4 linked regions of the Homo sapiens genome follow. The protein of the gene in region 1 interacts with the protein of each later gene in a pairwise test. Each region holds a gene or a part of one and is shown on either strand. Other genes may lie near its edges.

Evidence for each region.
Region 2: the proteins of MAL (region 1) and FCRL2 interact in binary tests that used the Homo sapiens proteins (3 or more experiments, as listed by UniProt).
Region 3: the proteins of MAL (region 1) and TMEM106C interact in binary tests that used the Homo sapiens proteins (3 or more experiments, as listed by UniProt).
Region 4: the proteins of MAL (region 1) and TMEM248 interact in binary tests that used the Homo sapiens proteins (3 or more experiments, as listed by UniProt).

Annotation. Positions count from the first base shown.
Region 1 is NC_000002.12:95,049,669-95,054,497, reverse strand, and holds the end of MAL (myelin and lymphocyte protein), read right to left. Parts: coding exon 4,792-4,829; intron 1,118-4,791; coding exon 1,043-1,117; 3' UTR 506-1,042; downstream 1-505. UniProt on the Homo sapiens protein: May be involved in vesicular trafficking from the Golgi apparatus to the cell membrane. Plays a role in the maintenance of the myelin sheath, and in axon-glia and glia-glia interactions.
Region 2 is NC_000001.11:157,774,089-157,782,096, forward strand, and holds the start of FCRL2 (Fc receptor-like protein 2 isoform 1 precursor), read right to left. Parts: upstream 3,045-8,008; 5' UTR 2,986-3,044; coding exon 2,955-2,985; intron 1,708-2,954; coding exon 1,687-1,707; intron 1-1,686. UniProt on the Homo sapiens protein: May have an regulatory role in normal and neoplastic B cell development.
Region 3 is NC_000012.12:47,966,572-47,969,398, forward strand, and holds the end of TMEM106C (transmembrane protein 106C), read left to right. Parts: intron 1-111; coding exon 112-161; intron 162-636; coding exon 637-690; intron 691-1,561; coding exon 1,562-1,658; 3' UTR 1,659-2,307; downstream 2,308-2,827.
Region 4 is NC_000007.14:66,938,210-66,945,253, reverse strand, and holds part of TMEM248 (transmembrane protein 248), read right to left. Parts: intron 3,407-7,044; coding exon of another isoform or gene 3,389-3,406; coding exon 3,230-3,388; intron 279-3,229; coding exon 1-278.

The sequences.
Region 1 (4,829 bases):
GGCATTCACCCCTTGTCACCGTACTTCCTTTCACTCTGTAATTTCCTCTCCTTTCTCTCCTATGGAGTGGCCCGAGGAAATTCTAAAATAATGTATTATCCACACAATGGGAACAAAGCAGACTGCCCAGGAACACGCTGATGAGCTTCACAATGAGTGAATGAAAACTTGTGCACCGTGTTTTCTTTTGGTGGAAGGAGGTTCTAGTGGGGCACAGACTGTTGTGTCTTGTAGGAAGGAGAAGCTGCCCCTGGCTGGCACTTGGCCAGTTTCCAGAGAGAGGGGAAGCCATCTGGGCAGGTAGCTGGGAGGGTGGGCTCCCCAGCACCGGGCTCTGAGAGTGCAGTGGCCTGGCACACACAGTGTCCGTCGTCTGAACTGCCACCTGATGCTGTCTCTTGAGATTCAGGTTAAGTCAAAGGATTCCTCAGAAAGAAAGCTGAATTGATGGTATTCTTGATGCTGAGGAATTCAACCCAAACCCAAAAAACACCCAACAAATGTATTGAACATTAAGACATTTTATAAAGTATTTCACAGGGTTATCGTCTTCCACCATGGACCTCTGGAAAGATCTGTTGGGTGAGTTTTAGTCCCCATGACATGCAGAACATCCATGAAGACTTAAAACATGGCACAAGATGGGGCGCTCGGGAGAGCTTGTGGACAATACCAACAGGTAGTTCTCGAGAGCTGCTCCAGGGGTCAGCAGAGGATCTTTCTTTCCTTCTCAGGTCACGGTCGCCACTTCCCACCCCCGAACAAGAAGGTCCCCTTTCACAAACAGGAGGTGACCCTAGCAGACAGCACAGCAGTTGGAGGTTAGACACAGCAAGCTCCCAACCCGGACGCGAAGGCACACGGGAGAGTAAACACAGCACCCACGAGCAACAGGGCAGGGCTTTTTTTTTTGGGCAGTGGGGGGGTGGTTGTTTTCTTTTTTCCACCATCAAGGGCATTTCTGTTTTCTAAAAAGTTATGCCGGAAAGTGGGGCGGCCAGTTAACACCATCTGGGTTTTCAGCTCAAGTTCTACTGCGGCTTTATGAAGACTTCCATCTGATTAAAGAGAACACCGCATGGACCACGTAGAGCAGAGTGGCTATGTAGGAGAACACCTGGAACCAAGAGAAATGGCCGTTAATGGGTTTGTGTAGGGAGGGCGAGGCACAGCGTCTGCACTGCATCCAGCCCCACGTGGCGTAGGGGGGGCCAGACCCAGAGAGCTTGGGCTGTCATTGCTTCTCACCCTCACATGGACGCCCTCCCTGCTGAGCCCAGGTGTGCACCAAATCCTCTCAGTACAGAGCTCCATGTGACCTAACAGTCTCCTGGATCTGGTGTGGAAGGTAAGACTCTCCACTATCACCCAGCATCACATTCGTCTCAGCTTGAGGTTTCGGCTGACTTGAGATGGAGTCCTCAAAGACCCCTCCAATGAAAGCATCTCAGGCAGGTAACTCTCCAGGGACAACTTCCTCCCCCAACACCAGTGAGACCAGCGCCCTCCAGCTGTGGTCCTGGTAGCTCGGTTGAGAGATTGTAAATACCTGGGTTTGCTGGCCCTGGTGAAAGTCTCCATGCTGCCTGGACATTCTCACCCTATCATTATTTTGTTTTAGGATTCTTAATATCACAGGTGTGGCTGAGAGAGCCAGACTTCATAGGAAGTGAGGGACAGAGAAGGGGAGAAGGGATTTTGAGCTTTTGTCTAAAGGAGGGGCCTTACTGTTGGGACCATCCAGTCAGCCACTGTGGCCCTTGGAGCGATGGCCCTGCTTTCTGGGGACTTGCTGTGTCCTCCTGGGCACTGTCTGCTCCCATCACCCTACTCCCTGAAGGCCTGCCTGCTGCCAAGTCCAATCTCTGCACCTGGTTTTGTGACCTTGGTTAGGGGTCAAGAGTTTCCAGCTCAGGCACGACGTCCATTTAGGGCGGCTACGCCTCTGTGACTCCTGAAAATGCTCATCAATCCCAGCCCTCAGGGTGCCTGCTCTCCTGCCCCTACACCTGGCCAAGCCCTTTCCCTCATTGCCTGGAGGCGGTGAGTAAGCTGAATTATTGAATAACACATTTAAGAGAACGTATCTGGGCAGGAGCAGTCAGACACCAGTGGGCAGCCCTCCATAAAAGGTGGGCATTCCAGACCAATGAAAGCCTTTGGCAGAAGCACCTTGGAAGTCCCCAGCAGGAAGAGCAGTGGAGACTCATTTTCCAAGTGGGGTCAAGAAATGGCCCACTGGGAACACGTAGAGCTGGGCACGAATGGGCAAATTTTGGCTTCAGAAAGCCCTCTCCCTAAACTGTAGCCATCACTGCCCACCATTGTATAATCTAGAAACCTCCAGATTTCTCCAGAAATTTCCATCTCGCCCCAGGCGACTTCCACCCATCCCTGGGGTCCCTTTGGCAAAGCAGCTCCGCCACCCACAAAGGAGAGAGGGAGGAGCTCAGCTTGGAACAGACCCTAATTAGTAGCCACACAGTGGATGTGAGGCAGGCTGGCTGCTTCCAAAACCAGGCTGTGTGAGAGAGGGTGTGAGGTGCCTCCCTGTACCCAAGTATCCCCTGGACTGGGCATGCTGTGGTTGGGCGGGTCTGGGATTGAATCCTGAGTAACGAACTTCTTTCTCTCTCACAGACGGATGCAGTTGATACCGTGAGTTGAAAGGTGTGACTTTACATCGAACGCCGTGCAGATTTCCCCTTGGTGGTTTTATCTGGGCACATCTGCCAGCTGAGAACACTCTGGTTCTCAATTCTAACGCTCCTGTCTGCGTGAACATATTCGTGTCTATCCAACTCAACTAAAAAAAAATGGGAACATGGTCAGTCATGGGATGGATAAATAGATGTTGGTCTATTCCTACAAGGGAATACTATACAGTAATGAGAACAAACAACCCACATCTACACCCAGCCACTTGGGTGAGTCTCACAAACACAAGGGTGAGAGAAAGAAGCCACACATGAGTACCCACTGTATAATTCCACTTATATGAAGTTCAAAGGCAGGCAAAACTGAACATGGTGCTAGAAATCAGAATTGGGTGGTGGTGGGGGTGCACAGTGATGGGGACAGGACTTGAGGGGATTTCTGGGAGTTGTTTATCAGGCCCTAATTCTTAGTCCAGATGCCAACTACACTGGGGAGTTTGCTCTATGAGAATTCATCAGACTGTGCGCTGGTAACTGGCCCTAATTCTTAGTCCAGACACCATCCACACAGGGAGTTCGCTGTATGAAATCCATCAAGCTGTGGGCTTGTAACTGCACACCTCTCTGGCTGTGTGCTGCCTTTGATAAAAGGTAAAAGAGGAAAGTCAGAAGGCAGTAGAGCCTAGTGGTTCTCAACTAGAGACCTGCCCAGCGGGAAGGGGTGTTCATTCCCCTAGCTGGGTTTTTCCATCAAGTGCTGACCCACTAACCACATCCCATCTACATTTCGCAACCTTTGTTCACAACAATTTTATGGAAATTATTGTCAGACACTTTGTTGATGTTTGTTAAAAGAGAAGGCTTGGCTGGGATGGGGGAGGTATGAGGCAGTCTTGGGAGAGGGAGATGAGATGGAATTGTGTGAAGAAGATGGAGGGTGGCTCACCAGCCTCCCCAGGAAGGAAGATCAGTCAAGATGCCCCCTGGCTGTGCTGCTGCTTGGAAACCAGCCATGTTGGGAGATGGGCCAACACGGGAGATGTTTCCACACCGCGGGACCCCTGGGGGGATGCCAGGATCCTGAGGGGGCCCTTTTTAGGGGAGCGATTGTAGGCTGGGAGCTTGAGGGCAGTGTGTGGTTTCCCCAGGGCAGGGGACTGTGCAAGGGGACCAGCAAGTGAGGCTTTGAGGGATTTTCCCCTGGGGCCCTCCTTCTGGGAGTGGGAAGAGGCACTTCACCAACCCCATTTCTAAAGCCTATCTGTGGGTCTTCTCTCAGCCTCTGCCCTACACTTTCCAAAAAGAGGGGATGACACAGCTTTGGCTACTAGAGCTGGTATCTCAGGATCTGTCACCACATTCTACCTTGGGATTTGCATAATTCATAGGTTAAGTTCTAGAGATCTGAAGAGTGCTCTTTCTGAAACTTCTTACTTTTTAACAATACCCATGGTCAGAAGCATGTTTTATATCGTAGACTGGTGCAAGGGCACACATGCACAGCTCTGAAAAACATGTGATGAAACAATATATTCTGTTACCCTGTCATTCTGATCCAGTCCATTAAGAAGAAAATCCACCTGGCCTCAGCGTCCCCACCCCTGGCTGGATGCTTCAATGGACGACCACTTGGGGAGAGTCAGGAGACCCATGAGGTCAGACTCACAGCCCCAAACTGGTGCTGAGAGTGTGGGGACTGGGCCTCCAGCGTTGATGCCAGGTCCCACAATGACTGGTGATCTTGGGCCAGTCACACTCTCTGGCCCCACTTCTCCATCTGTGAGATGGGTGTCATAATCCTGGGTTGTAGGGTTGCCATGGATGTTAAATAAGATTGTTCAGGGAGCACTCGGACAGGGCGCTGGGCAGCCGCATCCCCTCACACATCTGCCCTCTGCAAAGCCCACGCAGGCCTGGGGCATGCAGCCCTGGCCGGACGACTAAGCGGAGTCTTGGGCACAACATGACACTGCCCTTCTCGGGGGCTTTCCTGCTCCAGGCATGAAGGCAAGGTTTGACCTCACTCAAAAGTTAGTGAACTGAAAACAGACCAAGGGCCTAGGCAGCCTCCACACACACCCTGCCAGCCACGGAGCCGCCCGCTGTGGACACAGCCCCAGGTGCCCGGACTCACCACGGCAGCAATGTTTTCATGGTAGTGCCTGTAGGTGA
Region 2 (8,008 bases), on another chromosome or scaffold:
AACAGCAAAAACTAAAAGCAAATGGTATTCAAAGCTTTGCAAGGGCAAAGTCCCAGGTGGTGAGTGCAGTGTATGGGTGGGGCTGAAAAGAGGAAATGGGGTGGAAGACTGCATTGAGGCAATGGATGGGGACAGAAAGACCTTTTCAGCTGCTCTGCTGAATAGCATTTTCAAACCTTGCAGGGGATTGTAATTCTCAACAGGCCAGAAACTTTTCCCCAGAGCCAAGACTGGGGTTCAGAGGCCAAGTGACTGCCCAGCCTACATAGCAGGTATATAGCAAAGCCATGATTTCAATTTGGTCTTTCTGGCTATATAAGTCCTGCTCTTTCCAGTACATCATGCTGAACTAAGTTCTCTCTTACTCTTTTTAAAAAGAAAAGATCTCAAACTTCTGAAGAACATCTCAGTTTTCTGAGAAACTCTTGCTAAAGGAAAAGAAAGAGAATGAAGTGGCTGTTGCCCTGTTCTCTGAATGGTCGTAGGTGATTCACTTCAGGGAGCCTGCTGTCTTGGCATGATTCCACTAATGGTCAGAAACCTCCTGAATATTGATCGAGGTTTCCTCTAATTTCCATCCAGACAGACAGTGGAGTGATGGGTATCACAGGGTGGGACTCCTGGACCTTATGTGGGACAGAATGAATGCAAGAGACCAGACTTGCTCCTGAGCAAGTTCCAGGTAGGACCCCTGAATGTCTCCCTGGACACTCTTGTTCCATTCAAGGTGACAGCAGGATCTGCTTTTCCCACACTGTTCCTTAGAGCCCAAAGAGCCCCTTCCACTTGGTAGCCAGCATTCAATGGGCAAGGGAACAAGTCTCCCTTTCTTTAGATTTTGTCTTGGCTCATGTGAAGATTCTGTATATAGAATAAAATATTTTTCCCATTGACTTCCTTCACTGAGCACAGATTTAACTCAGAAAGAGTGAAATAAAATTAGCTTTATTTCACTCTTTATGATTAGAACAGTAATACATGCATTTTTAAAAAATCAAAACTAAATACTAAATCTAGAGCACGGGTTGGCAAATTATGGCCTGTGAGCTGGCCAACACTGTTTTGGTAAATAAAATGTTATTGGAACACAGCCATCCTCATTCGTTTACATATGGTCTATGGTTGTTTTCCTGCTACCACAGCAATGGCATTGAGTAGTTACGGCACACACCTGAAAAGCTTAGCCTATTTACTCTCTTGCCTTTTACAGGAAAAGCTTGCTGATTCCTGAGCTAGAGCTAGAGAAGCAATGAGGACACATGTTTATTCTGACCCTGCAGAAGTTTGTAGTTCTGACACATTCCTCTATAAATAGCTGTTTTCAGAGCTGTAAAAACATTCAGCATTCAGCCAGACAATAAAGAGGCATTACAGTCCTATGGGCAGGAAAACAATTCTCTCCAAATTGTTCTTTTCTTCAATCTGCATGTTATTGCCCTTCTTAAAGCCAGGCTTTTAAGGAAGAGGCAAGCATGTGGGGTCTTGAGAAGGCTAGGTGGTACCTGGTCACCCAGACATGCAAGTGGTGTTGGAAACAGGCTGCGTGACCTCAGAACATGTCAGCCTAGAGGGCAGTAATATTAGGACATCTTCACAGGCTTTCCAGAGCCACCTCTATAGAATCCTGGGGTAGTGGGGTGACTGATATGCCAGAGACCAAGAACAACAAAGACAAGGAGGACTCACCTGCCTGTTCAGTGACTGCATCTGTGAGGAGATCAAAAGCCAGAGATTAGCACACAGCATTTGCCCTCATAATTTATAAATTTATATTACTCTGGTAAATTGCTCAAAAACTTCTTTCCATTTTCCCTTTCTTTTCTATTTCCCTAATCTCTTATTACTAACAATTCAATCTCCCTCGAGCACACATCTAACTGTCATTCATTGTAGTCAAAAGGCAAGTTGCAAACCCAATGCTTGACTAAAGGGATTGTCGAGAATACCCATGTTGGATATTTAGTGACTCTCCTTGATTTCATTTTCCTTCCACCATCCCCACCACTCTATCTCACACTCTGACTTTTCAAGTGGTAGATAGACATGACAACACGATCACAAAGGGCTCATCAGGAAACATACATTGTGAGAGTTCCAAGAAATCAACAAATCAGTCTCTTTCCTATGGCCATATTTCACGTTAGAGCCCTTTGTATTCCAATAACAAATATTTATTTAGTGCCTACACAGCATAGAGAAAGGGATCTTATTTACTCTCTCACCCAGGCTGGAGTACAATGGTGCGATCTTGGCTCACCACAACCTCCACCTCCCGGGTTCAAGCAATTCTCCTGCCTCAGCTTCCCGAGTAGCTGGAATTACAGGTGCCCACCACCACGCCTGGCTAATTTTTGTATTTTTAGTAGAGATGAGGTTTCACCATGTTGGCCGGGGTGGTCTCGAACTCTGACCTCAAGTGATCCACCAGCCTTGGACTCCCAAAGTGCTAGGATTACAGGTATGAGCCACTGCACTCACCCAGGAATCTTATTTTCTAGCAGCAGCTGTCATCTCCCTCATTGTCCACGATTAAACAGAGGAATATTAGCAAAGGGTCTCAATGCATCTGCTGAACCCAAATCTTATAGATAACAATTGAATAATCGGTGTTCATGGAGGAGAAGGGCATTGCTAAATGCTAATATTATGAACATTTTACTATGAGAACATTATATTACTCAATGAGATCTAAGATATCAAAATAGCAATTCATGACCAGCAAATGGAAAAGTGGTCCACCTTGAACATTAAGCATTGTGCTTAATGCTTAATGGATGTGCTGCAAATTCACTGTCCTCAGCCTACTTCTTTGCATCTGCCTTTGAAGCCCAAGCTGCAGGCAGGACCTGAGCATCCCCACCAGTCCCTGGGCTCCAATAAAACCTCCAACCTTTTGGGAGCAGTAGACCTCATTCAGCTGCCACCTCACTTCTCAGTCAAATTATTGAACTCACCAAAGATGACCAGCAATGACCACAGCAGCATGAGGACCTAATCCAGCTATTTGAAAAGAGATGTACTCTTGGTCACCAACTGGAGACTCTGAGCAGGCGATGAAATGTGGTTTTCAGAATAGGTTTTGTATAATTAGCAAAAAAGGAAGTAGAATAGTGCCACTATGTTTAACCATTATCTTTGTCCTGGAAGGGCTAAAACAATTATAGCTGATCCTCTCAATGCCAGAGAAATTTTGTAACTTGACCCTCATTATGATACCTAGCATTTACATATGGGTTGCAATGAGTCAGACACAGTTCTAAGTGCCTCATGCTTACAGAGTTATTTATTACCTTCAGCAAGTTTCTGAATTGGCACTATCCCCTTTCACATGAATAAGGAAATTGAGGCACTAGTAAAGGTAAGTGTCTTAGTCCATTGGGGCTGCTATAAAGAATACCTTAGACTGAGAAATTTATAAACAACATAAATTTATCACTCATAGTTCAAGAGGCTGGGAAGTTTAAGATCAAGGCACCAGTAGATTCAGTGTCTGATGAGGGCCTGTTTCTCATAGATGGTGTCCTCTATGTGTCTTCACATGATGGAAGGAGCAAACAAGCTCCCTCAAGCCTCTTTTACAAGGAGACTAATCCTTTTCATAAGAGTTCCACACTCATGACCCCTAAAAGGTCATGTAATAAAAGGTGGGTACCTTTTATTACTATTGCATTGAGGATTAAGTATCAACATAAGAATTTTGCCAGGACACAAACATTCAGATGATAGCAGCCAGTAAAATGACCAAGATCAGCTTAATCAATTTCTAGTAGTAACAGATCTGGGATTCAAACCCAGGCAGCCCAGTGTCACAGTCTGGCTCTTAAACATTGTGCCCTATTATCTTGATATATTGCTTCTCAAGGTTCATAAAATAATAAGGCCATTGTTTCAATAGCTCATATTTCTTAAGTAAAATTTTTCGTAGTCATTCGATGACTTTCTAGAATGAGATTTTACTAAACTTCAAAACACTTGCACTATATTGCTGAAAACATTGCCATCTTTCTAATCTGTAATCACAACATTGCCTATTTCTAATCTGCATTGCTTTTTGTACCCCAGGCTGATCCTAATACAGTTATCTCACACAAAGCAAAGCGCGTGTTATGTGAACACCTATTATCATGCTCACTTTGATTAGATGTAGTCCCAGTAGATGTTGTCTCATCAGTGAACCTTATGCAGGATGAAACTCTAAACCAAAAAATCACAGGTGCTTATAAATGAGGGACTGACTGAAAATATTCATAGACTCAATGTTACCTGTTCAGGTACTTAACATTTACCTGAATACTTAACATTGAATTTTTAACAATTGGATACTTAACATTTTATTCTCACTATTATCATAGTTTTACTTTGAGAAAGGCTAATATTTATATGTGATGGTCATTAAAGCCTTGCTTATAATAATGTAAAAAGAAAATACTAAAAATATATCACAAGGAGAGATGTGTGTTAAAAATAAGTTATGTGTCAAATGCTGTGGAAAACCAAACAGCCATTAAAATAATTCTGTGGAATAATATTTAATAGCAAGATAAGATGTCTAGGATATATGATTAAGAAAAAAGTGGGCTGGGTGCGGTGGCTCACGCCTGTAATCTCAGCACTTTGGGAGGCTGAGGCGGGCGGATCACGAGGTCAGGAGATCAAGACCATCCTGGCTAACACGGTGAAACCCCATCTCAACTAAAAATACAAAAAATTAGCCGGGCGTGGTGGCAGGTGCCTGTAGTCCCAGCTGTTTGGGAGGCTGAGGCAGGAGAATGGTACAAACCCGGGAGGCAGAGCTTGCAGTGAGCCGAGATCGTGCCACTGCACTCCAGCTTGGGTGACAGAGCAAGACTCCGTCTCAAAAAAAAAAAAGAAAAGAAAAGAAAAGAAAAAAGTGGCTGCAGAGTGCACTTTATCTGCTGCACATTATCCCCTGCTCTCCAATAAAAAGTGTCTGAGACAATTCGCACCACAGAGTTACTGTAATTATATCCAAAAAATCTAATTAAAGCTGATTTTTATTTTCCTTATTTTGCTTATCTGTGTATTCTAGTATTCTTACAATAAACATATGCTATTTACGTACTTTTTAAAGATTCATTATAAGAAACTAGGTTTTATGGCCTCTCTCATCTTAAAGTGTTGAAAACAATACTACTTTAACTTTCTGCATAGGCAAACGGTTTGTATGTGTTTGAAAGTGTAAGTTACTCTTTCCCAGGACCAAAGCTAGTCACTGATCATCAAATCTTGCCTACTGAATGGGTTTCTAGGTGGCCTATAATTCCTTCCCATTCTGACCAACCTGGAAGCTATAGAAATTTTGTGGATGGGAGGGAATTAAGGAAAGGAGTACAAATAGGATCATGAAAAAGTTGATGGTAAATTGATGGTAGGTACAAGTTTTTCATAGACATCAAGGAGATTTTTCAAAATAATCCATATCCCTTCACTGATTTCTATATACCCTCTATGGAAATGTGGCCTCTTCAGTTAAGAATCAATATTTCTTAAGGTGTTACCAAATGATATGAGGTAAAATTCACAGTTGGTATAAAAGGTGCAGGTGGAAAGCAGCAGTAATGAGGTGTGTGGGCCACAGAGGTGGCAACAAATCCTCTAAGATGGCTAACATGTTTCATGTGGGTGCTACTCTGTATTTGACAGACGGCAGTAATTTACAAGTGAATAGGCATATCCTGGAAGCGTAGCTAAACTTGAATGCACAGTAGGCACTGTGACCAGAGATTAAGAGGCTTAATAGACACTTGGTGGGGGGTGGGGAAAGTAACTTAAAAATTAAGGCAATAGTGGCAGAAATAAAATTATGTTTGTAGGTTTGATCAAAGTGAGAGATAATACTTTTTGTGCAAGGATATTTTGCCACCAACAGGATGGAGTCACAGGTATCAGAAAGAACCAGCATTAGACATACATATAAATGCCTCTTGGATCAACCAGGTAAACCCTTAACATGGAGATTCCACAGGTGGTAACATACTGAAGCCTATTTTGCCAGATGCAGAGCAAGAGTCATCTCTGTGAACCGTGTTCAATGTCTTGAATGGAATACAAAATACAGTGCCAAGTTGGGGCATGCCAGAACTGAGACAGAGACAAATAGAGTCTTCATAAAATATGTCAGAATAAAACAAATCACACTTCCTGCTTGATGAATTTGATTACTAGGACAGTTAGAGTGGGAAAATAAGAAAATGAAACAGGCTAACTTCCAAGATCCCTAGATATAATCTTTTGAGCTTGGGGTTCCAAGGTCACTATGAGAGAATTAAATGTCATAATATATATAAATTACTTGTCATAATAATTGCTACATAAATGGCAGTAGAAGTAGTCATAGTCATGGTCATCATCATTGTTATGGCAGTAGTGGTAGTAGCAGTTTTAATAATTACAATAATTACCTTGAGCAGCATGATATGTCTTTGTTGAGTGGGGCTTTCCCTAATAACTTCCTGTCCAAGATAGTAACTAGATACTTTCCGAGTTCTATGGAGGTGATGTTGTTTGTTGAAGAACTTCTGGGACAGAACTGGCTAGACCAAATGTTGTCTATGCAGACACTCTCCAATGTAATTTAGACAGAGCCAGGCCCTTCTGCCCAGAAGATTTTTTACAATTAAATTTATTATATCTAGAAGTCCAGTAGGGCTCTGCATGGAGCAAATAGCATGAAAGAGAATTCAGAATGGGTATAAATGCTTGGAAGCTAGTGGTCATTACCTCCATGGAAGATAATGAAGATAGTGAAAGCCCAGAGAATCAGAGAAGGCCAAGAGTAAGTTGAAGTTTTAGATAGTGTATCTCTAGGGGACTGGAGTTTAACAAAGTTCGATTTTTTCCTTCGTCATGAAGATTATCAGTTCCTTTAGTAGCAATGGAAACTATGGTAAATCCTTACTAAAGAAGGTATTACTATTCCTACAGTGGAGGTGGAGGGGAACCCAGCCTTGGTGTCTGAGGGGAGGCAGAGAGGCAGAAAGACTTAGGGAGGCTCATAGAAGACATCAGAGCAGCACCTGTGGTGGTGAGCAGTCTTCTCTCCGTGTATGAAAATACTTCCTGGCAAGTTGCCTGGGTTCCATGAGAACAACAGGTGGGGAGGGATGTCTAGAGGTCAAATTCAGTTCAAAGCTTTCTGCTTCCTGTTTTAATTGTATATGTGTGGGTTTTCCAGAAGGTGGATGGGTTATGACTTTTCAGGCCAAGGGGAGCTGTGAACCATGGGTCATCAACTACACCAACCGTTAGTAGAATCACCCACAGCAGCTTTCTGTGGGTGTCTTTCTGGCAGGCTGGTGAGTATCAGTTGTAGTAGAAGAAAAAAGCAAGAACCAAGATCGAGATTACACTGATGGCTTTCTGTCTTGTTTTACCATGCTTTTTTTTTTTTTTTTTTGCTCACTCTTCTAACACACTCTGCTAATAACTTTTTCACAGTTCATAAAGATATGATTCCCAAGCAGAATCATTATTCATTCAGTCATTAATTCATGCATGCATGAAGCCATGCATTCAGTTACTCAGTGGAGTTTTATTCAATGCCCCTGCTTGATGGGCAATACACTTGGCACTAGACATACCCAGATAAAAAGATATGGTCCCTGCCCTGATGGAAATTGCATTCTAGCATCAGAAGACTAATAGAAAAGAGTAAACATACTTGTGTCCCACTGCTGTGGTGGAGCTCTGTACAGCATGTGAATGGACACAGTGGAGATTAAGGAGTAAAGGCTTCCAGAAGAAATGAATATTGAGAGATAGGTAGGTTTCAATCAAGCAAATAAGACTTAGGAAGATGGAGAAGTTCCAGGCCTAGAAAGCATCAGGAGCATGGTAAGAGGTCAGGGACCCATTCGGGCTGCTCAGGTATCCACAGGCACTTTAGAATGGCAGATCCAAAGGTATGAGGAAGAGCATCACAAGAGGTAAGGCCCAAAAGTGGGAAGGTGGGAAAATCTTTATATTTTCATAGGGTGGAGGAGACACC
Region 3 (2,827 bases), on another chromosome or scaffold:
GTATTTTGCATGTGATGGAAGAATGACCCAAGGTCTTTGGATTGCTAATAATAATACTGTTCTGTGTCAAGCCTGCTTGGCCACAGACCAACTCTGGTATCTTATTTTCAGGTGAATTTTACCGGGAAGGCCGAGATGGGAGGACCGTTTTCCTATGTGTAGTAAGGACACTGTTCTCTCTGTGTGTGCTCTCTACTGGAGGAAAGGGATTCAAAGTCATACTCCATTGATTGGGGCCTGGTCCTGCCTTAGATCTCAGCTTTTGACTTATAGGTTCCCTGGCTTTGGATGTCTTGAGATTTATTTGAAGAATGTATTATTATTATGTGTGTATTTGAAGAATGTATTATTTGATATGTGACAGAAGTGCTGGAATTTCTAAAAGAGAACATTAAGCCACTAAAAACGTTACCAAGCTCCAGCACTTATGTGATGGGTTTGAAAAAACAGAAAGTGGTATGACGCTGTGGGAGGATGAAAATGACAGTGGCAGGGACTGAGAGCTGACAAGCCTTGGCAGCACTTAGGTCGGAAGGGGGAGGGGGGCACCCCAAACAGGACAGTGTAACTCTGCACTCTTCTACTGAGGCTTTAAAAAAAAAAAAACTGACTATTTCCATATTTGCTGTTTGGTAGCTTCTTCTGCACGGTACCTGAGATCCTGGTGCACAACATAGTGATCTTCATGCGGTGCGTCTCTCTTCCCTATCCCGATGGCCTGTCCGGCCATGTGAGCCTACCACCTTTGCTCAGGAGGCCCCTGTGTGACCACAGGGCAGAGGCACCTAGCCCGAGGGGACACCCTGTGCCTCACAGGCACAGATACAGTAGACCCTTGGTGTTCTCTAAACACAGTGTCCACATGCCCTTCACAAATCACCAGTCACCCTGAGCAGTCAAACATTTTCTCCATAAAATGGGTCTAGTTTAACTAAACACTTGATCCCCTCAGAATCCTAATGAGACAGTCATGAACAGAAAAGCTTTCTCAAGATGTTAAGTACTGGGCATTTGACCAGACTTCCTCTCTAGCCACACAAATTACCACATGTCATGGACCTTTAGGGTTGTTTTCTGGAAGCATGGCTGTTAAATTTGCAAGTGACAAGACTCTGCTGCAGACATGAAATATGAGGGGTTAGAGCAGAGTTTCTCAGCCTTGGCACTACGAACATTTTGGGCCAGACCTTTGTTGTAGGGGGCTGTTCTGTGCATTATAGGATGTTTAACAGTATTCCTGGCATCTGCCCACTAGATCCCAGTAGTAAACCCTCCATCCCTTAGTTGTGACAACCCAGAATGTCTTCAGGCATTGCCAGAAGTCTCCTGTGGGGTAAAATCATTCTCGATTGAGAAGCCTTGTTTGGAAGGCCACCTCCTGGCACAGTATCTCTGTGAAAGTGGAAAGATCTTCTGGCCTCCTGGTTACATAACCATGAGGATATGTGCCTGGGGCCCGTGGGTATTGTTCTCTGAACTTGCAAAAAATTTCCTGGGACATTTTTCTGGCTTATTTCATCCCCCAAACATAATTAATTCTTCTTGGTTTTCTTTTCCCTAGAACTTCAGTGAAGATTTCATACATTGGCCTCATGACCCAGAGCTCCTTGGAGACACATCACTATGTGGATTGTGGAGGAAATTCCACAGCTATTTAACAACTGCTATTGGTTCTTCCACACAGCGCCTGTAGAAGAGAGCACAGCATATGTTCCCAAGGCCTGAGTTCTGGACCTACCCCCACGTGGTGTAAGCAGAGGAGGAATTGGTTCACTTAACTCCCAGCAAACATCCTCCTGCCACTTAGGAGGAAACACCTCCCTATGGTACCATTTATGTTTCTCAGAACCAGCAGAATCAGTGCCTAGCCTGTGCCCAGCAAATAGTTGGCACTCAATAAAGATTTGCAGAATTTAATACAGATCTTTTCAGCTGTTCTTAGGGCATTATAAATGGAAATCATAACGTGGTTCTAGGTTATCAAACCATGGAGTGATGTGGAGCTAGGATTGTGAGTGACCTGCAGGCCATTATCAGTGCCTCATCTGTGCAGAAGTGGCAGCAGAGAGGGACCATCCAAATACCTAAGAGAAAACAGACCTAGTCAGGATATGAATTTGTTTCAGCTGTTCCCAAAGGCCTGGGAGCTTTTTGAAAAGAAAGAAAAAAGTGTGTTGGCTTTTTTTTTTTTTAGAAAGTTAGAATTGTTTTTACCAAGAGTCTATGTGGGGCTTGATTCACCCTTCATCCATTGGCTGGAACATGGATTGGGGATTTGATAGAAAAATAAACCCTGCTTTTGATTCATCTGTGTCTCCTCTGATTGCCTGGGTGTTTTGTAGGGATCTCTGGGGGAACCGTAGAATAGTTCCCTTCCAAGTGGGTCAGGATGGAATAGGAGGAAAGAGACTGCACCCTGATTGTACTCCCGTTCCCATGAGTTCCTGTCACAGCAAGCAGCCTCATTTTCTTCCATCTGCCTCTTGCGGCAGGGGGCTACCCTGTTCCCTTCCAGGACAGAGCACTCAGTGCCCCATGGAGGTTGGAATTCAGTCTTGAATAAGACATCCTGGTTTGAGGTTGTAAGTTTCTTGGGTCATCTCCACCTGCTCTGCCACCAGAGGTTAGGCTACAGCCCCAGGATGGCAGAGAATCTAGTTAAGAAGCTTGAGTAGTCAGGTGTTAGAAGTCAGCTCTTCCCATAGCACTGGGACCTCAGGAAACCCTAACAACAACAGGTGGTGGCTGGGGTTGTATATTAGTTTTTGTCTCCATTCCCATAGCTTGGTTTTCAATATTTGCTTAATGATCTGTATAGTCTTGAATC
Region 4 (7,044 bases), on another chromosome or scaffold:
CCAATCTGATGCCCTAAGATGGTTGAGTACAGATGGGTGACGTTGCGGGAATACCCTCCGAAGGGTTTCAGTGGGTCCAGGGTTAGGGTGATTGAGACTGAGATATTCACCGGGCCCGAGTCCTCCAGGGCCTGGGGGGACTGGGTGGAAGCTCGGGCCTGCCCGCTGGTCATTGTACTTTCCGGAGTTGTGGTGTCGTTTGTGAGATGCTTGAGGGTTTCATTCTCTGATACACACAAGTCCAAATCATTGAACCGTAGCAGAAAAGTATTCCAATCCTTTGGGAAAGTGAAAGAAAGAGAAATGGGTGTTAAGCAGCGCCTGTCTCCCACTGCGGGAATACAGGTAAGACCCCAGTGTGGCACCGCAGCACATCAGCAAACTACAATTCAGAGCTGATCATTTAAGATCATGACAACTCGGCCACCACCCTCTTCACAGGCAGCATGATGTGGCTTTCCTAATCACTTTTATATTCACAACCTAAAATATGAACTCTTCACTGGCACAAGATACTCAATAAACTGTGAAATCAAATCAATTTATTCAAGAAAATCTTTTTAAAAAATCCAGCATATTACACTTAGAGAAAATGATCTAGCCTCAGAACCAAACTTGAAAAGAACGCTTGAAGAAAAGCATTAATCCAAACTCATTTTGCAACTACAATTCTTTTCTTTAAATAAAGTCACCTTAAAATAATGTCCCAAAAGGTCAATTCCATACACCTTGCTCTCTTTCTCTAGAACACAAAACAGCAGTGAATACTAATACTCATTTGGGACACTGCCCCCCTTCTTATGGACTTTTGATGACACCTTAGAGCAGCAACGATTTCAAAAAGGAAGGGGCCAGGTACGGTGGCTCGCACCTGTAATCCCAGCACTTTGGGAGGCCAAGGTGGGTGGATCATTTGAGGTCAGGAGTTCGAGACCAGCCTGAGCAACATGGTGAAACCACGTCTCTACTAAAAATACAATAATTAGCCGGGTGTGGTGGTGTGTGCCTGTAATCCCACCTACTTGGGAGGCTGAGGCAGGAGAATCGCTTGAACCTGGGAGGTGGAGGTTGCAGTGAGAGGAGATCGTGCCACTGCACTCCACCCTGGGCGACACAGTGAGACTCTGTCTCAAAAAAAAAAAAAAAAAAAGCCATCTGAGGCCAGGTACGGTAGTTCACGCCTGTAATCCCAGCACTTTGGGAGGCCAAGCAGGGTGGATCACTTGAGGCCAGGAGTTCGAGACCAGCATGGATAACATGGTGAAACCTTGTCTCTACTAAAAATACAAAAATTAGCTGGACATGGTGGCGCATGCCTGTAATCCCAGCTACTTGGAAGGCTGAGGCACGAAAATCGTTTGAAGGGGGGCAGAGGCTGAAGTGAGCCAAGATCGCGCCACTGAAGTCCAGCCTCAGCCTGGGTGTCAGAGTGACACTCCACCTCAAAAAAAAAAAAAAGTCATCTGAGCAACCCCTACCCAGCCCAGTAAGTCTACCCTTACAGCATCAGTTTAACTGTATGTGACATTTAGTAAGACTGCAACTGGATCTATCAAATTACATTTTCCCTAACACCTACAAACTCAACTGACCATTCTAGTACATTAGGGTTGAAAATGAACATTCTAGTCTCAGTCCTTCATAATCCTAGACATGAAGAAACTGAGGCCCAGGGCAAATTAGGGACTCTCCAATTCTAGTTCAAGGTAAAATCAGCATTAAGTTCTGATTCACAGCCCCAAATGTTTCCCATACACCACTGCCTTTCCTACAACCTAGGATCCTCATTTGAAAACAAAAATCACGAAACTAATCATAACCAAAGTTCCGCAGCATCTCAACAATGCGTTCCTACAGAGCTGGAGTCCACGTTGAACAGCTGGCTAAAGCCAATGCCAGGCCTAATTTGGATTATTAAGGGCTAATTATCCAGGCTTCAGTGCAACCACTGGCCTTGGCCAAGTGCTCAACATGGACTCAAGCTCTGCGGGAAAGAAATGGCAGGAGGCTGTGCAGCTTTAGTTTTGAGTAGAATATTCATTTTCAGCCCTGATGTGGGGGCAGCCTGTTTTCACAACCTTTAAAGATTGAGGCAGGGTCAGAAAAGAGAGAGAATTAAGCCAGCCAGTATGTCTCTTAGTAATAAACTCTTTGAAAGGGTTACATGGTAGAAATAGCTAAAACTCGTTACTTGAACTGTGCTAGAAAGAGCTCACATGTGTAGGCGGTTCCTTTTGCCAAGATCACTTAAGATCTAGAATGCCCTAGAGCATGAGAGAAAGCTACGATCTCAATTACATGGAACACAACTCTCCTCTCCATTGCAAGGCACACTCAATGCGGCAACCACGCACTCCCAGCCCCACTCCCACCCCCACCTCCACCCACCAACAAACCCAAGAAGAAGGAAATAGAATAAGAGAAGGCACCCAAGGAATCTACTAAAAGACAGGAATTAGGCTGGATGCGGTGGCTCACACCGGTAATCCCAGCACTTGGGGAGGCCGAGATGGGTGGATCACCTGAGGTCAGGAGTTCGAGACCAGCCTGGCCAACGTGGCGAAACCCCGTCTCTACTAAAAAGACAAAAATTAGCCAGACGTGGTGGCAGGCACCTGTAATCCCAGCTACTCAGGAGGCTGAGGCAGGAGAATCGCTTGAGCCCGGGAGGTGGAAGTTGCAGTGAGCTGAGAGTACGCCACTGCACTCCAGACTAGGTGACGGAGCGAGACTCCGTCTCAAAAAACAAAAAACAAATATATTTGGAAATTAGGTCCTGTTTTTGAATTTCTTTAGGATTCCTTCTTATCTCATGAAAAAAACCATTAGTATAGCTGATAAAACTCCATGATGATATGTGGTTTTAAAATACCAAATGTTCAGTTTTCTAAAACAGCAATGAACCCATTTGAGATGGAATATTACAGAGGTGAGGTCTCCAGCTTTTTGACACAGATCATTTTACAAATGTACTCTCCAAAGTGCATGTTTCACTGCTAAAATAGTCTAACTGAAACTGGTAGCATATTTAAATCGAACAATACCCATCTAGGTATTTCCTAACAAAGTGAGTCCTGGGGAGATGGAAAACAGAAAATTCTGAATAAATACTGATTTTTCTCACTAGGAGAGAAAGGCCAAAACCCAAGAAAGCTATATGGCAAGCCACAGGGTGTTGCCCCACTGCACAAGGACCAGCCAGCCCGGGAGAAGTCAGAGCATACTATACCTCTGCCATTTCTGGGGATTTAATCTCCTTGATTTTGAAGAAGTAGCCCAGGGTCAGGAAAGCTATGGCCATGGCGCTTACGCTGATCATGAAGACCACCAGGGGAGGCCGACTGCTGATGTACACCTTCAGGTTCTCCAGGGGGTTGATGCTGAACATTATTCTGATCAGCTCCACCTGAAAGAAATGAATCAGAAGCTTCAAGGACTGACTTGCCAACAGGAAAGCTATGATTCTTTTGTTTCCTTTTGAGGTGTTGGGGGGTGAGCTGGGTGGGATGGGCACTCATTACTGAATTTGAGAAATGTCGGATCATAACTTCATTCAAAAGACTAGAAGGAAGAAACACTAAATGTTAACTGCCATTACCTCAAAGTGGCAGGATCCTGAATACATATTCTCTTTCAGTTTGAATCTTCTAAATATTGTGTGTGTGTGTGTGTGTGTGTGTGTGTGTGTGTGTTTTAAGAAACAGGGTCTCTCGTTCTGTCACCCAGGCTAGAGTGCAGTGGCGTGATCATAGCTCACGGCAGCCTTGAACTCCTAGGCTTAAGCTATCCTCCCACCTCAGCCTCCCGAGTAGCCAGGACTAAAGGTGTGTACCACTATGCCCGGCTAATTTTTTTTTTTCTTTTTTTTTTTTTTTGAGACGGAGTCTCACTCTGTGACCCAGGCTGGAGCAATGGTGTAGTCTTGGCTCACTGCAACCTCTGCCTCCTGGGTTCAAGTGATTCTCCCACGTCAGCCTCCCAAGTAGCTGAGACTACAGGCATGTGCCGCCACACCCAGCTAATTTTTGTATTTTTAGTAGAGATGGGGTTTCACCATATTGGCCAGGCTAGTCTCGAACTCCTGACCTCGTAATCTGCCTGCCTTGGCCCCCCAAAGTGCTGGGATTACAGGCGTGAGCCACCGTGCCCGGCTAATTTATTACCTTTTAAGAGATGGGGTCTCGCTATGTTGCCCAGGCTGGTCTTGATCTCCTAGCCTCAAGCAATCCTCCTGCCTCAGCCTCCCAAAGTTCTGGGATTGCAAGTGTGAGTCACCGTACCCAGACTCAATCTTCTAAATATTCTATAATAAATACTGTTACTTCCGTATCACTTAAGAAAAGGTTTAGGTGGGTCAGTAATGTGACACAAATACACAACATGTACAGAAAGAAAGTGAGGATGCTCTCATTTCCTGCCACTGAAAAGCTGAATTCTATTTATTCGACATTCTGTCCTGCTCATTGCCATATGGCTCACAGCCATCCCAGCCCTGCTTAAAAGCTCCTAAGGCTTCTACCAGACCTAGGAGAGGTCGGCAATAGCTCCCTGTCATGGCCCACAGGGTTTTCAGGACTCAGAAGCCCTGCCAGTCTCCCTGACTGCATCACCATCCACTTCCCCTCCTCCCTCCTGGGCTTTGGCCACACTGGACTTGCTATTCTTCAGGATCATCTTGTCAATGTCTGCAAGGAAATCAGCTGGGACTGACAGGGACTGCACTGAATCTGTGGATCGCTTTGGGGAGTGCTGCTCTCTTAACAAACAACGTTGTCTGCTAGTCAAAGAGCCTTGCAGACCTTTCCATCTATTTAGCTTCCTTATTTGAATAATGTTTTCTGTTTTCAGTGTTAACGTTTGCACTTCTTTTATTAAGTTTATTCATAAGTATTTAATGCTTCCTGCCATTTTTGACCATGATGTAGCTGAAGAATTTTGTATCTGCCTGGATGCTTTCCCCAAACATTTCCACGTTTGCTCTTCTTAAAACGCACATCTATGGCTGGGCGCAGTGGCTCATGCTTGTAATCCCAGCACTTTGGGAGGCCGAGGCGGGTGGATCACTTGAGGTCAGGAGTTCGAGACCAGCCTGGCCAACATGGCAAAACCCCGCCTCTACTACAAATACAAAAATTAGCCAGGTATAGTGGTGCACACCTGTAATCCCAGCTACTAGGGAGGCTGAGGCAGGAGAATCACTTGAACCTGGGAGGTGGAGGTTGCAGTAAGACAGGATCACGCCACTGCACTCCAGCCTGAGGGACAGAATGAGACTGTCTCAATTAAAAAAAAAAATGCAAGTCTCTGTTTAATAGCCAGCTCCTCAGAGCACACCTTCCCTGGTCACCCTCAGCCCCTGCTTTATTTCCTTTATATTGTTTAGCATCAACCAAGAGCACAATTATTTTCCTACTTGTTTACTGTTTGTCATCCCTCATTTATGAGCCCAACGAGAGCGGAGATTTTGCACACCTTCCTTGGTCACCCTCAGCCCCTGCTTTATTTCCTTTATATTGTTTAGCATCAACCAAGAGCACAATTATTTTCCTACTTGTTTACTATCTGTCATCCCTCATTTATGAGCCCAGTGAGAGTGGAGATTTTGCCTGTCTTGTTCACAGCTACAGCCCTGGCCCCTGGCCCCTAGAACAGTAGCTGGCACACAATGAGCACTTATAAACACGAGCAAACTGCGACAACATTAGCAAAAAGCAATTTTTTAAAAAGTCTGTATCAGCGTTTAAATTTTAGAGACAAAAAGATGCATCAACAGCCCCTAAAAATCAACAGCAACACATTTTCCATGCCACTTTCACTCAACATTGTTTTTCTGACATCTCTGTTGATCTCTGTTGATCTAGTTCGTTGAATTTCACTGATGTATATATGTAATTGTTCTGTGGTTGAGTTATTCCAGTCTGAGGGGCCTAGCTGGGTTCCTGTTACTGTTTCACCCACCAAGCGCATTGCAACAGGTACAAGAGTGGCTGTAGTACAACAAAGTCACAGAGTAGGGCCTGTCTTCAACCTGATATTGTCAGACCACTCTCCAAGGAGATCAACCAGTTTACACTTCCCCAGCAGTGAAGGAGCCTGCTCCATTCCATGAGATTTGTGCCAACACTTGATTTCCTAAGGCATATTAATATGGTCCAAAAAGACAGATGTGAAATGATATCTCTATTATTTTAAATGGTATCTCCCTGAAACAAAGCATCTTTCCGCTTTTTTAATCAGCCATTTAGGCCCAATCTTAACTGAACTGCCTGAATCCTCTGGTAAGTTACTAATAGGGTGTTAGTCTATTTCTTATTGATGTTTAGAAATTCCTTTTGTGTTTTGGGTACTAAGCCTTTAACAGTTTTATATGTTACGTATAATTAATCCAAGTCTGGGTTTTCTTTAATATGGTTTATGGTATCTTTTGCCATATGAAAGGTTCTTGAGAAGCCAGGCACAGTGGCTCACGCCTGTAATCCCAGCACTTTGGGATGCCAAGGCAGGTGGATCACGAGGTCAGGAGTTCAAGACCAGCCTGGCCAATATGGTGAAACCCCGTCTCTATGAAAAATACAAAAAGTAGCTGGGCATGGTGGCATGTGCCTGTAGTCCCAGCTAGTTGGGAGGCTGAAGCAGGAGAATCAGTTGAACCCGGAGGGCGGAGGTGCAGCAAGTCGAGATCACACCACTGCACTTCAGCTTCGACGATAGAGCGAGACTCCATCTCAAAAGAAAACAAAAAGAAAAGAAAAAGAAAGGTTCTTGATATTTTTAATAGTATTAAGAAATAATTCACATACCATACAATTCACCCATTTAAAGTATACAATTCAATGATTTTTGGTATATTCACTGATTTGAACAACAACCCTCACTATCAATTTTCAAATGTTTTCACTGTCCTATAAAGAAAGCCCAACCTATAACAGATACATAAAAAATAAAAAGAAATTAAAACATACCACCAGAGAAAAATCACCTTCACTAAAATGAAGACAGGAAGGAAGGAAAGAAAGAAGACAAGACCACAAAACAACCAAAAAA